3 linked regions of the Homo sapiens genome follow. The protein of the gene in region 1 interacts with the protein of each later gene in a pairwise test. Each region holds a gene or a part of one and is shown in the gene's direction. Other genes may lie near its edges.

Region 1 (4,345 bases):
GATCAGACCACCTGGTTCAAATCCCATCACAGAAATTGTCTTGCTGTGAAATCTAAATCAAATGTCTGGACTTTTTGTTCCTGTAGTATGGTGATGGTAATAATCAGGATTATTGTGAGGATTGTATAAGTACTAGCACATAGTAAGCACTCATGTTGTTTGCTATTATTGTTACTCCCACTTCTCCCCTCTGGTGGCATGTAACCTGCACGGACCTTGGAGGACTGAACAAAGGGGGCAAACGTGGGAATAAAAGACAAAGACAAGAGAGTATATTTGGAAGAAGGGGTCAGGGGGCACCTTGCCTCTAGTGGACAAGGGCCCTGAGCTTTACACAGCCCTCTGTATTTATTAGGCAAAAGAGATAGTGAGAAGCAGGGGTGATTGTCGGGTAATTGTCAGTCCATTTGGCAGTTTGGTTCACAGCAGGCTTGCGAGACTGCATCATTTGAACAGTAGGCGCTAGATTTCCCAGTAGATAAGTTCAAGGAGCCCTGCACCAGGGAGTGATGGCCCCCAGCAAACCCTTTGGTGGCAGGCTCAGTGTGAGTTTACTCACATCCTGCATTCATGATAAACAGTTTGCTGTTTGGTCATATAGCCTCCAGTGGAATGCTGAGTTGGTCACGATCCCTTTGGCCTTTCTTGCTCCCAACAGTGGCAGTCTGCACATAGTGCCCTAGCATTCTTCTTTGTATATCAGAGTATATGTAGAACTACATGGAAGAAAGACTAGTCAGAAAGGATAATGGAGAAGGCATCTGTGTCCCCTGTTACCTGTAGTAACAGCGTATAGTCTGTCTCTCTCCCTATCTCATCTCCTAGTAGAAAAAGAAAACTGTTTCATTTGCAGTCATCTGAATTAGTTTAGCATCAAAGCCTACGTCTTTTGTGATCTAAATAAAATTATTTTTATTACTCTGTTTCTCTAAATCTGCATTATAAAAAGCTAATTTTCCTTTTTATTTTAGGGTGGAATTGCGTTTGTTGCCATAAAAGGAGCATTTAAAGTTTACTTCAAACAGCAGCAATATTTACGACAGGCACACCGCAAAATTCTGAATTATCCAGAACAAGAAGAAGCATAAAACTGACTTCTGGTTGTTCTGCAGTTCTCTCATCCTTATGAATCTGTTGTGTTGTTTTGATTCCATCATTAATGCACTTGTGGAGACTTGTGATAAGCTGCTGCTCCTATATTTTTTAAGAAATATAATAAAGCACTTAGGGCAGGGGAAATCATCTCGGTAATCATGGAACCTAAGGATGTGATTTGTTTTCATTGTTTGTATGTACTACTTTTATGGCAGTCATATGAACCATTATCTTAGCATGGTAAACCTGGGTTTTGTTCATATTTTCTCCAGACAGAAATGCAAAGATCAAACTGTGCAAATATTAAAAAAATGCACATGCTGTTTTATTCAAATGCCTCTTTTGTACATGTTCATGTTTAGTGTTTTCTCAGAATCAGCAACTCAAGGTACTATGAGGATTTTTCTCACTGACATAATTTGATTACATACTAAATAAGAGGATATGTTAATATGAGGAAATGTAAATTAAATTAGTTATAAATAAATAACCAAAAATGTATGTAAACATTCAAATGATTATCTGAACAAATGAGATTTTGTGGTGTTTTCTTTAACCCATGTGATGTCCTCCAAAATGTGTAGGGTAAAAATTCACAGGGCTTCCAGATCACTTTTTCAATATTAAATTTTATTTACATAATGTTGACATCTCATACTTCATGAAGTAATTTTGACTCATGCAGTCGTGTGTGTGTGTGTGTGTGTGTGTGTGTGTGTGTGTGTATTTGTGTGTTTCAGTGTTTCATCAGGTCCTTCCATCTCTGGGAGTTTTTTCAACCCATATTTCTAGAAATTACAGCTGCCAGTTTATAGTAGTTTGAGCAGAGGATGATTTGCAAAAATAAAAATAAAGTTATTTTACTCTCCTCTTGCATTGATTCAGTTATTGAGATATTCGTTGATCACCTCCTATTTCCCAGGCACTGTGCAGAGTGCTGTAGGACATAGTGGTGAACAAGACAGACTTGGTCCAAGCTCTTACAGAGTTGACAGTCTAGTTTCAGCACATAGAAAACCAGCAGTGAATAAACCAAGGTGAGGCCTTGAGCTCTTTGTTTTTATATTAATGAGGAGAAAAGTATGAAAACAAGAAGTCTTAAGTAAATATTGAGGTCATTGTTTTTGGCTTAAGTTTATTATAGAAAATCAACACTAATGTTTTTAGATTTTAATTGTCCTATTGATGAGGCTAGCACCTTAATCACTGTTTAGTTTTGTATTCATTTTTAAAAGCAATTATTGAAGCCATTTTCAATAGATTGGCCATTTTAATGTTCAGCAACCTGAATGGTTATTTTTGTTAATTAAAATTAAATTTTTAAGAGATATTTTCAAAACCCTATTTATTTTCTTGTTCACAGTAATGCATGTCAATAATAAATGTTTCCCCTTACTGATAAGCGGCCACTTTAGGAGTGTAGCAAATATAGATTGAGCTATGTTAGTTTGCAATAATATATGTTAACTTTAGTAATTAAAGACTGGTTTCTATAGTATGAATGTCTTAATTTTGAGTTATATGATGTTTATTTGAATGACTGTTGAACATTCAAATTTGTATTATTTGGAGATGAAGATTTGACTAACAGTGAGCCTTATTAAGAACACTACTACAGTTCTGAAGGGGAAATATAACATCTATGGTTATATATTTTAAAAACTTAGATTATAGGCTGTAATTATAAAATATATTGGCTTTTGTTTTCAATGTGAAAGATACATTAAATGGACACATATCTTGCAAAATTTTGTTGTATAGAACAGTTTTTAGGCAGCCTTTACTAAAGTTATGCAAACACACAGTTCCCCATTTACTACATTAATGCCCTTGACAGGGAGTAGCTGCTTGGTTTTATAGGTATTAGGGCTCATGAAGGCCGGGGAACAACTCTAATCCTTTTGGGGCAGGAGGGAGGGTTTTTTTAGGGTTGCGGGGAGGGAACTGCAAGTGCCTGAGGACCAGAGTGGCCTCTAGCCCCGAATTGAACACTTTTAAACCTAAAGAGCCTTATTATTATTAGCTCGAGAAATACCACATGCCAGTCTTCCCAGGAAGGTGACCTGCCTGACCATGAAGCAACAAAAGAGCATAGGCAGACTTAAAGTTGGATAGACCTGGGTTCAAATCATAGTTCAGCTTTCAATAACTGTATGTATGATTTTGGCTAAAGGATTTGACTTTCTCTCAACTGCAGTTTTCTTAATCTTTGAAATGCAAATAATGTTTATCTCAGAAGACTATTTCTAGGATTAACTGAGAGATTAAAGGAACAGCAGCACTTAGGCTCAAAATCGCCCCTACAAAGCAGTAGTTGTTTCTTAATTGCTAAGTAATCTGTTTGCACTCTAGGAAAAGTAAATGGAGAGGTAAAAGAAAGGCATTGGGGACAAATGAAAGAGATGATGTAGATTTTTCGGATGGGTGGGTATATTTTATTTTCCAGTTTATTTTCATATTTCTTTACTGTGTTATTTCTGGAAACTTTAATGTTTTAAACCTCTTTTATAAAATTCAATGACGACTACTAGAATTCTTTTCAAAAGTTAACTTATCTCCAAAGTGGCTGAAAATATTGTTTACCATTACATGATTATGAAATGACTGTGAAGAATATAAAATTAAACTTAGTGACTTAATTAGTCACTGCCTTGCTAACTTTGCTGTAATTTTTTTAAACGTCTTGTTTTTAATATAGCAAACTATCTCAATACTGGCTGGATTAGGTTAAATAAAGAATTTTTATGTTCTCTAGGTGTACTTTGTTAAATCTCAAAACATTCTGTACATACATAATTTTTTTTAATCACAGTTATCGAGATACTAGTTTTTGTAAGTAAAAGTAATCTGAATTTAAAAAAAAAACTGTATGGAAGAATTTGTCCTAATTTTGTAAACAGGCTAGCCTATATTCTAAGTATGTTCTAATGACTAAACTACATCCCCACTCACCCACCCTCAAAGCCTCTTGCACTGAGTATAATTAAGCAACTAGACAAGATCTGTGGGTGGTCTCATGCCATGATGTCTTAAAGTGTATTCGAGTGAGTTGGGAACACAAACTGCTTCTGAGATATTAAGAACTTAAATTTCTGAAGTAGAAGATTAGAATCCTCTAGAATGAGTTAAAGGTCTTTTCCTTGCATCCATTTGGGGATTATATTGGTTTTAAGTCATTTCATTACCCCATCTGAGAGACAGATGCTAAGAGGAGAAAGGGCATAGAATTGAACAGTCCTGGATGCATATG
Region 2 (3,404 bases), on another chromosome or scaffold:
CCCCCCGCTAACAGTGGGAAGGAAACACAAATGCTGGTGGCTTCTGGGGTGTTGAGAGGGTCCCGGTGTTCTTGGGGCCCATTTTGTACAAGCGATAACTATTGAAGAAAAGAGAAGAATACAGTTCTTAACCCTTTCCTTATGCCTCACAAATTCAGCTTGATTTAAAAGCCTACTAGGACCATAATTTTAAAACAAAAAGCTTATTAGGAATATGGTGTCTGGAATTTGCTCCACAATTGCAGGAGTAGTTGCAGTTGGGGGGAGGGGGAGCAGGATTTCAGAGGTTGGTGGTTCTTGGTTATGGGTGGTGGACACATGGCATTTCATGATATTATGCTGTCTGCTCTGTGATGGTTCAAAATTCTCCGTAATAATAAAGTTTAAAAAGAAAGGCCTATTAGATTTTTACTTAGCAAGATCTCAGGGTTTTGAAATCGCAGCAGGCAGGCGTGGAGAAAGCAGGCGGAGAGGGATTCCTGTTCTGTGAGTGTTTGTTTTTCTCCTTTTATCTGTCATTTTCAAAACGCTGCTGTGTTTCCTCTGATAATTTATCCTATTTACTTATTAGCTTTTAATTTTTAAAAAGGTAACACATACAGCATAGAGAAGGATAAGAAAACTCTAGCCCAGGACTGCCATAGAAACGCAACAGCAGCCACGTATGTAACTTTAAATTTTCCAGTAGGCACATGTTAAAAAGTAAAAAGAAACATAAGAAATTAATTTTAGTAAGATGTTTATTTAACCCATTATGTAAAATATTATAATTTCAATGTAAAACTAATATTAAAAACTATTGAGATATTTTACATTCCTTTTTCTTAGATTAAGTCTTTGAAACATCGTGTGGATTTTGGCCAGGCGCGGTGGCTCATGCCGGTAATCCCAGCACTTTGGGAGGCCAAGGCGGGCAGATCACTTGAGGTCAGGAGTTCGAGACCAGCCTGACCAACATGTTGAAACCCTGTCTCTACTAAAAATACAAAAAGAAAATTAGCTGGGCGTGGTGGTGCATGCCTGTAGTCCCAGCTACTGGGGAGGCTGAGGCAGGAGAATCATTTGAACCTGGGAGGTGGAGGTTGTGATGAGCCAAGATCACGCCACTGCACTCCAGCCTGGGTGACAGAGTGAGACTGCATCTCAAAAAAAAAAAGAAAAGAAACATTGTGTGGGTTTGACACTTACATCTCCTGACATCTCCATTTGCATTAGCCACGTTTTTCTATGCACAGCAGCCTCGCATGTCTAGGGGCTGCCATATTGGTCAGCACAGCTCTGGAGAGTACAAAAGGGACACAAAAAAGATCACTCTCTGTTCTGACCTCCAGCTGACCCCTACCTGCCAGCCCTCTGGTCCACTTCCCAGAGGCAACCTCTGTAACCAGTGTCTTAAAAAATATCTTGTGATCCTCCAAGCTTTTGTAACTTAAGCAAATGAAATACCATTTATCTCCCTGTTTCTTACCTAAATGGAAACATTTCACAGGCGTTCCTTTATACTTTCCCTTTTCACTTAATGTGTTCTATTCAATGGCTGTTCTGATGATGCCTTGCTATGTTTTGTGGGAGAACCTCGCCAGGTACACCTTCTACCCTCAGCGTCAGGCCCAGATACCCATATTCAGAAATACATCTGACTCTGGGGACAGTGATTCCTTAAGGGACGTGGGCCTCTTCTTAGGTGTCACCTCCTTAAAGCTACAGCCAGTATCCCTGGCCTGAGGGACTGGTATGTGTGAGGGCTTACGGCAGAGCCCGGGACACCCTTGCCCTTTTGAGATCCTGCAAAGTGCCGGTCTGGCCAGCAGATGTCCTGGAGGCCGCACCTCATAGGTGGAAGGTTCTGGTGCATTTGGCTGCTGCCCCAACACAGACCTCACAGTGCCTGCCCACGATCCCTGGGTTGATTTTGTGGCTGGTGGTTTCCCTGAGCAGCGTCCATCTGCTTCAGAGAGCTGAGGAGGTGGCTGGGTGAGCAAGCCTCTTCTGCCCTTCTCCCTGGTGACGCTCATGTTCAAGGACTCCCAGACAAACCCCCCCTCACTCTCTGGAGCTGATGGGACCTGGGGAGGAGCCTTTCCTTGTCAGCTCCTTGGCTGGTCTCCACATGCTTTGATTCCAGCTCAGAGGAACTCACTTGAGAATGCTGGTTTTTATCAGCACCCCAGCCAGCAGAGTGAGGTCTTTGGATCTTGAGCTGCAGTCTCTGAGTTGGGCCTCCTTCCTCTTTTGTTTCAGTCACTTCTTCACGAACGATCCTGGATGCAAATGAAGAATTTAAGTCCATGTCGGGCACCATCCAGCTGGGCCGGAAGCTTATCACAAAATACAATCGCCGGGAGCTGACGGACAAGCTTCTCATCTTCCTTGCGCTAGCCCTGTTTCTTGCTACGGTCCTCTATATTGTGAAAAAGCGGCTCTTTCCATTTTTGTGAGATCCCAAAGGTGCCAGTTCTGGCCCTTTCAGCTCCTGTTTCAGGATCTGTCCTGGTTCCTGAGCTCTAGGCTGCTAAGCTGAGCCACACACCCCTCCGTTTGCACCAGTTGCCTGCAGGTTGGATGGAACACAGTGCCCCACTTTTCTGCAAGTAGCTGGCTTGTAAAGGGTGAACAGAGCCATGGGAGGAAGGTCTGGCATTGGGATGCCGCCCTGGGGACATACGAACCGCCTCCTTCCACCATTGTGCACTATGGGAGGCCGCTGCTGCGTGGAGCACTTAAAGTCCAGCCTCCAGGACCGGATGCCCCTCCTGTCTCCCGCTCCCATCGTGCCCTTAAATGCCAGATCTGGTGGAGGGAAGAGAGAAGAGGTAGGAAGAAAGGTGATGAAAACTCCTGGTCATTCCTTGAATAAACTTGATTTTATTTAATAGAATAAAATGTATTTGATTTTGTAAGATAGCCCTCTGGGAATGTGTGTTCCTCTTTTCTTTTTTCTTTTTTTTTGAGATGGAGACTTGCTCTATCATCCAGGCAGGAGTGCAATGGCGCAATCTTGGCTCACTGCAGCCTCTGCCTCCTGGGTTCAAAAGATTCTCTTGCCTCAGCCTCCCAAGTAGCTAGGATTACAGGCACACACCACCATACCCAGCTAATTTTTGTATTTTTTTAGTAGAGATGGGGTTTCTCCATGTTGGCCAGGCTGCTGTCGAACACCTGACCTCAGGTGATCCACCCATCTTGGCCTCCCAAAGTGCTGGGATTACAGGTGTGAGCCACCATGCCCAGCCCTCTTTTCTTGATGTCCAGATTTTTAGGACATGAACCTAGATTATTTATTTATTCATTCATTCAACAACGAATTAGCATTGTTATTTTCTTTCTGTCCCCACCCAACAACAAGGAACTATTAAACAGCTGCCACACACAGGGTGTTATAGACGCTGCTGAACATGACAAAT
Region 3 (7,047 bases), on another chromosome or scaffold:
TAAACTTCTCACATGCCATACCAGAAACTGGAAGTCTCCCTTTCCTTTTTGCCCCACATCTTGACAAGCTGATAAGAAAGCCCAAGTGCTACCTTGGTTGACACCAGCAGGAAGTTTCAACCATGCAAGCTCAGGCCTACATGAGGGAGCTCTTGCTCTAGCCCCACCTTCTAAAACCACAAGCCAGTCAGTCAGCCTTCAGGTTCTCAAGTCATTTTGGGACATGCTTGGGATCTTGCCTTGCTCTCCCTGGAAAGCCTTATTATATGTGTAATAAACCTTTTGGTATCCTCTTAGTACCTCTTGGTACTTTGGCATTTCAATATCTGATTCAAATTTTGGGTGGGGGAGTTTATTGTCTCTGGAGGGTAACCACAACATCTTGCAAGTAGAAAATCCAAATGAATTAAGAAAACCATTGGAAGGCCAGGTGTGGTGGCTTATGCCTGTAATCCCAGCGATTTGGGAGGCTGAGGCAGGCAGATCTCTTGAGGTTGGGAGTTTGAGACCAGCCTGGCCAACATGGTGAAACCTCGCCTCCACTAAAAATACGAAAATTAGCTGGGCATGGTGGTGCACATCTGTAATCCCGGCTACTTGGGAGGCTGAGGCAGGAAAATGGCGTGAACCTGGGAGGCAGAGCTTGCAGTGAGCTGAGATCGCGCCACTGCACTCCAGCCTGGGCTACAGAGTGAGACTCCATCTCAAAAAAAAAAGTTAAGTATAATTTACTGTGCAACTCAGCAATTCCATGTCTTAGAATCTGCCCAAGATAAATGAAAACATGTCCACGCAAAGACTTATATATAAATTTTTATAGTGGTGTTATTCTCGACAGCCTCAAACTGAACCCATAAATTCATCAACTAGTGAATGGATAAATAAAATATGATATGTCCATTCACTTGAATATTTTCATCAGTAAAAAACTGATACATGCTGCGACATGAATAAAACTCAAAAACATTAAGTGAAAAAAGCTAGACACAAAAGACTTCATATTGTATAATTCTATTCATATGAAATGTCCAGAATAAGCAGATCTGTAGAGTTAGAAAGTACATTAGTGGATTGAGGTGAGATTGGGAACCAGGAGTAACCACAAATGGGCGTGGGGGATCTTTTTGTAATGATGGAATCATTTAAAAATTGGATTTTGGTGATGATTATATAGCAATGCAACTAAATTTTTTTTTTTTTTTTTGAGACGGAATCTTGCTCTGTCGCTCAGGCTGGAGTGCAGTGGTGCGATCTCGGCTCGCTGCAACCTCCACCTTCCGGGTTCAAGGGATTCTCCTGCCTCAGCCTCCTGAGTAGCTGGGACTACAGGCATATGCCACCATACCCGGCTAATTTTTGTATTTTTAGCAGAGACAGGGTTTCACCATGTTAGCCAGGATGGTCTCAATCTCCTGACCTCGTGATCCGCCCGCCTCGGCCTCCCAAAGTGCTGGGATTTCAGGCATGAACCACCGTGCCGGGCCACTAGATTTTTTTACTAAAAATTATTGAATTGTACATTTAGGTGAATTTTGTGTTATGTAAATTATACCTCAATAAAACTGTTAAAAATATATTAACACAGAAGGGGAAAAAGGCAGTGCTTTTAGATAGGAGGAAGCAAAATTTTCTGTATTTGTAGGTAATATTTTAAAAGATGACTTGAAAAATTATTGCTATCAGTAAAGTGTAAATATATAAATAGCCTTTTTATATTTCAGCAGTTACTTGAAAAGTAAAAAATTTTCTTAATAATAGTACTAAGAATGTAATATAATAAGGAATAAATTTAATAAATGTACAACTTCTCTGAAGAAAATTACAAATCATAAATAATAAAAATGGGGAAACAGTTGATAGTTAACCCAGTATTTTTCTACTTCATTTATAAATTGAAAGCAATTCAAATCAAAATTACAGGCTTTTTTAAAAAAACTTGATACAATGTCTAAATCATATCTAAAATGCTGATTATTAAGAGCATAGCAAAGACATTTCAGCAAAAAATAATGAGGGGTTCTTGCAACTGTAAAATTAAAATCTGTATAAAGTTACAATAAAGAGGACAATAAAGAGGTATTGGTAGATCTGTGGAATGGAATTGCAAGGTCAGGAACAAAACCAAGCACCCACAAATAAGTAAAGGTGATACTTCACATTCGTGGTTTAAGAATAGACCATTCTTGGGCTGGAACAGTTATTAACTATTTGGAAAGAAATTATAACTATATTCAGTACAACAAAATTAGTTAACATTTATTATGGTGCTTATGTAAAAAAATCCATAAAAGATTGGGGAAAATATAGAAGTAAATGTGTCTCTGATTTCTGAGTAGGAAGATATATAAATGTGTACATATACAAGTTGACCTTTGGACAACACTGAAAACAGCTTTGAACACAATAGCAATGCTGACATCTGCCCTGTGCAGTTGAAAAATCCACATATAACTTTTGACTCCCCCAAAACTTAACTACTAATGGCCTGCTGTTATCCAGAGGCCTTACCAATAACATAAACAGTTGCTTCACACATAAATAGATTGGTGTCTACATATATTTTATGCACTTAAAGACATACATTTTTCTTAATTTTTTTTGATATTTCTAGGCTAGACAGTTTATCTGCGAGTTTTTTCAAATTATTGCACATTTCCAAAACATTTTTCAATATATTTATTGAAAAAAATTCATGTGGCCTGGCATGGTGGCTCATGCCTGTAATCCCAGCACTTTGGGAAGCTGAGGCGGGTGGATCACTTGAGATCAGGAGTTCGAGACCAGCCTGGCCAACATGGTGAAACCCTGTCTCTACTAAAAAATAAAAAAAATAGTTGTGGTGGCATGCACCTGTAGTCCCAGCTACTTGGGAGACTGAGGTGGGGGAGAATAGCTTGAACCCGGGAGGCAGAGGTTGCAGTGAGCCAAGATCATGCCATTGCACTGCAGCCTGGGCAGCAGAGTGAGACTCCATCTTAAAAAAAAAAAGAAAAAAGAAAAAAAAATTTGTGCGTAAGTAAATCTGCACAGTTCAAACTCATGTTTATCAACTGTATGTATTTTTAAGCATAAGAACTAAGAAACTAGGAAACAGGAAACACAGTTTTGGCCACATAAAATTTTTAAACCTATCTATGTCATAAATACTATGGAAGACATTAAATGTAAACAATGCCAAAATAATAGTATGTGCAGGTAATGGATAAAAGCCCTAATATATCAAAAAGAAAGGATAGCTCAGTTGAAGACTGGACAAAGGACATGAATTTGTAATTCACAGACGTACCACAAATAACTTGTAAACCTAGGGAAAAACAACTTTTTTCTACTAATCAGAGAAATGCAACTTAAAAATTACATACCACTTCTGGCCTATCAAATTGGAAAAAATAAACTAAGAGAATGCAGAAGACTAGATTACTTGCATACTTTTATTTGGAAAATAAGTTTATGCATCCTTTTTGAATAGCAGTTTAGTAATTTAAGTCAAAAGCCTTAAAAATGTTTATACTTATACCTTTTGGCCCAGAAATTTCATTTCTGTGAGTTTGTCCTAAGGAAACAATCAAATGTATAAAAAGATTATTTGTGGAGGGATTATCATCATACCTTTATTTAAAATATCTATAAATAGAAAATCTAAGTGTTAGACAAAAATTTGTGGTACCTCCATGCAATGGAACTAGGTGGGAGAAAACTCAGTGATACAGAATTTAATAATATGTTCTGTGAAAATAAAAAATTTAGTATGTACACCATGGCCCCAGTTTTTGTGTTTTTGTTTTATTTTGTTTTTTTAGACAGAGTCTTGCTCTTTTGTCCAGGCAAGAGTGCAGTGACGCGATCTCGGCTCACTGCAACCTCTGCCGCCTGGGTTCAAGTGATTCTCCTGCCTCAGCCTCCTGAGTAGCTAGGATTACAGGTGTGTGCCGCCATGCCCGGCTAATTTTTGTATTTTTAGTAGAGACGGGGTTTCAGCATCTTGGCCAGGCTGGTCTTGAATTCCTGACTTTCGTGATCCACCCGTCTCGGCCTCCTAAAGTGCTGGGATTACAGGTGTGAGCCACCGTGCCCGGCCCCAGTTGTTGTTTTTGTTTTTTGTTTTATTTTGTTTGGAGGATCAGAAAAAAAGACTAACTTATTACTGACTCTGGGTAATGGGATTAAAGGTGATTTTGATTCTTGTTAATTTTGAAAATTTTAAAAATGAATATATAGTACTTAAAAATATAAACCTCAACTGTTATTTATTTTGTTTTTTGAGACAGTCTCATTCTTCCGCTGAGGCTAGAGTGCAGGAGTGTGATATCTGCTCACTGCAGCCTCCGCCTCTGGGGTTCAAACAATTCTTGTGCCTCCGCCTCCTGAGTAGCTGGGATTACAGGCGTGCACCACAATACCCAGCTAATTTTTGTATCTTTAGTAGAGGCAGGGTTTTGCCATGTTGTCCAGGCTGACTTAGAACTCCTGACCTCAAGTGATCCGCCTGCCTTGGCCTCCCAAAGTGTTGGGATTACAGGTGTGAGCCATTGCACCTGGCTTCAAATGTTATTATTTAAAAAGTGTTACCACCTTAGATGGCATTAGTTGCATTGTGCATAGTGAAAGGAAAATGAATGAGCATGATTGATGCACAGTCCCAGCAGAAAGGAAAGAAGTCTTTCTGTGCACTGGTCACCAGGTAGCATTGTAGGCCAAATGCTGCTTGCTTGTCACCCTGCCTGAGTGGTGCCATGTAGCAGTACAGAGAGAGTGAGTCTAGGGGAAGGCATAAACTGGAGGGGCTAGTGAAGGTTTTTTGCTTTTTTATTTTCCTTGAAGAAAGAAGAAAGAAAGAGAAGGGGAAAAACATTTTCAGATTTTTAAGGAGAGATGGGCAAAAATGAAGCAGAATGAATGGATCCATAGAACATATTGAAGATTTACTTTTGTAGAAGGGATGTGTCTTCCTTTGAATCTGCAGAGTGGATGGGAAGCTACCTGTGTTGGCATTTTAGATTCAGGAAGTATAGGCTGTAGTAGTATATTAACATTGGATTCAGAAAGCTCACTTAGGGATTTCCTTTTTGTAGAAGGAAAGTTTTAAAATAGGATTCTAGTTTTAAAGATGATTTAATATTGCCTTTCTTGTTTTTAAATAGCTGTCACGGGAAGTCTTTTTAGGATAAACGTAGGCCTGCGTGGCCTGGTGGCTGGTGGCATAATTGGAGCCTTGCTGGGGTAAGCATTAACATGGTTTGGTTCTAAATTGGCACAATTTTCATTAATACCTTGCCTATTAAAAAGTCTCATTTATTTTCAAAGAACAAATTTAATCCTTAGAATCTATAAAAGATCTCTAGTCTTGCATTGGCAGTAGCTTTGACTGTCCATTCTAATTCTACCCCAATAGTTTATCTTATTTACAGTTTTTATTTATAGTTTCTTTTACTTAGTAGTTATTACAATAAATAACATTGACTCAATACAACTATCTAAGATAGGGCCCTTATTCAAAATGCCTTTTTACCAGCTAAAACTGTTTAAATATTGCTAACACCTGAAACTATAGTTCGAACACAGGTATTTATGGGAGCAGGGAAAAAAGAACAAAAAACAGTTAACAAGCATATTCTGTAAAAATTGTTAGGATTTTGTTTGTTTTGCTTAATACATTTTTAAAAAATGTTCTTCCTCAATTTTTTACTTTGAACAATTTCAAACCTACAGAAAAGTTGAATGAATTAGTACATTGAAACCCCATATACCCTTCACCTAGATTCACCAGTTGTTAACGCCTTGGTGATATTTTCCATATCTATGTATATGTGTGGGATGTGAATATATTTCTTTTTCTTTCCGTTTGCTTCTTGGCTAAACTGTTTGAGACCTCATGATACTTCACCCCCATATATATCAGCATGTATCTCCCAGGATGAAGAATACTCTTCCATGAAATCATAATACAATTATCACAGTAAACATTGTTTCAACACAACTATCTAAGTTAGGGTCTATATTAAAAACTCCTCAGTTATCATACTAATGCCCACATGTTTCTCCATTTTGTTTGATCATCCCATCATGATTAGATTAATGTATTTTTGTCAGGAATACAACATAGGTGAAGTTGTATCCTCATGTATCACATCAGGAGATATTCTGTCACCCATTATAAGTAATATTAACTTTAATTACTTGATATATTGGTTTTCTGCTGTGCAACAAATTACCACAAACTGAGCATGTATTGCATGTGAAACAACACCCTTGTAGTTCTGTAGATTATAAATCTGGCTGGGTTTCCCTGCTCAAGATTTTACAAGGCCAAAGTCAAGGTCTTGGCCGGGCTAGGCTCTTACCTGGAGGCTCTGGGGAAGAATCTGTTTCCAAGCTCATTCAGGTTGTTGACAGAATTTAGTTCCTTGTGGCCAGGCACAGTGGCTCACACCTGTAAAACCAGCAGTTTGGGAGGCCGAGGCAGGTAGATCACTTGTGATCAGGAGTTTGAGACCAGCCTGGCCAACATGGTGAAATGCTGTCTCTACTAAAAATACAAAAATTAGCCAGGTGTGGTGGCAAGCGCCTGTAATCACAGATACTCGGGAGGCTGAGGCAGGAGGATTGCTTGAACCCCATATACCCTTCACCTAGGCAGAGGCAGAGGTTGCAGTGAGCCAAGATCGCACCATTGCACTCCAGCCTGGGCAACAGAGTAAGACTCCATCTCAAAAAAAAAAAAAAAAAGAGGAAAAACTAAAAAAGAATTTACTTCCTTGTGCCTTGAGGTCTGAGGTCCCTGTTTTCCTTGCAGGCTGTCAGCCAGACTATTCTCTGTTCCTGGAGGCCACCCACATTTCTTCTCCTAGGGCCCCTTTGTGTTTAAACCAGCTACAGCACATTAACCCCTTCTCATACTTCAAATCTTTAACTTCTACTCTGCCACCAGCCAGGGAAAACTCTGCTTTTGAGTGTTCACTCAGATAGCCATCTCCTTTTTCATTATCTCAGATTCAACTAATTAGTAACCTTAATTACATTTCTGAAATCAATTTTGCCATGTAAGAT

Evidence for each region.
Region 2: the proteins of MARCHF5 (region 1) and BNIP1 interact in binary tests that used the Homo sapiens proteins (3 or more experiments, as listed by UniProt).
Region 3: the proteins of MARCHF5 (region 1) and TIMMDC1 interact in binary tests that used the Homo sapiens proteins (3 or more experiments, as listed by UniProt).

Annotation. Positions count from the first base shown.
Region 1 is NC_000010.11:92,350,120-92,354,464, forward strand, and holds the end of MARCHF5 (E3 ubiquitin-protein ligase MARCHF5), read left to right. Parts: intron 1-971; coding exon 972-1,088; 3' UTR 1,089-3,845; downstream 3,846-4,345. UniProt on the Homo sapiens protein: Mitochondrial E3 ubiquitin-protein ligase that plays a crucial role in the control of mitochondrial morphology by acting as a positive regulator of mitochondrial fission and as an important regulator of immune response.
Region 2 is NC_000005.10:173,161,484-173,164,887, forward strand, and holds the end of BNIP1 (vesicle transport protein SEC20), read left to right. Parts: intron 1-589; coding exon of another isoform or gene 590-662; intron 663-828; coding exon of another isoform or gene 829-841; exon of another isoform or gene 842-877; intron 878-2,241; coding exon 2,242-2,438; 3' UTR 2,439-2,904; downstream 2,905-3,404. UniProt on the Homo sapiens protein: As part of a SNARE complex may be involved in endoplasmic reticulum membranes fusion and be required for the maintenance of endoplasmic reticulum organization. Also plays a role in apoptosis.
Region 3 is NC_000003.12:119,508,500-119,515,546, forward strand, and holds part of TIMMDC1 (complex I assembly factor TIMMDC1, mitochondrial isoform 1 precursor), read left to right. Parts: intron 1-5,141; coding exon 5,142-5,220; intron 5,221-7,047.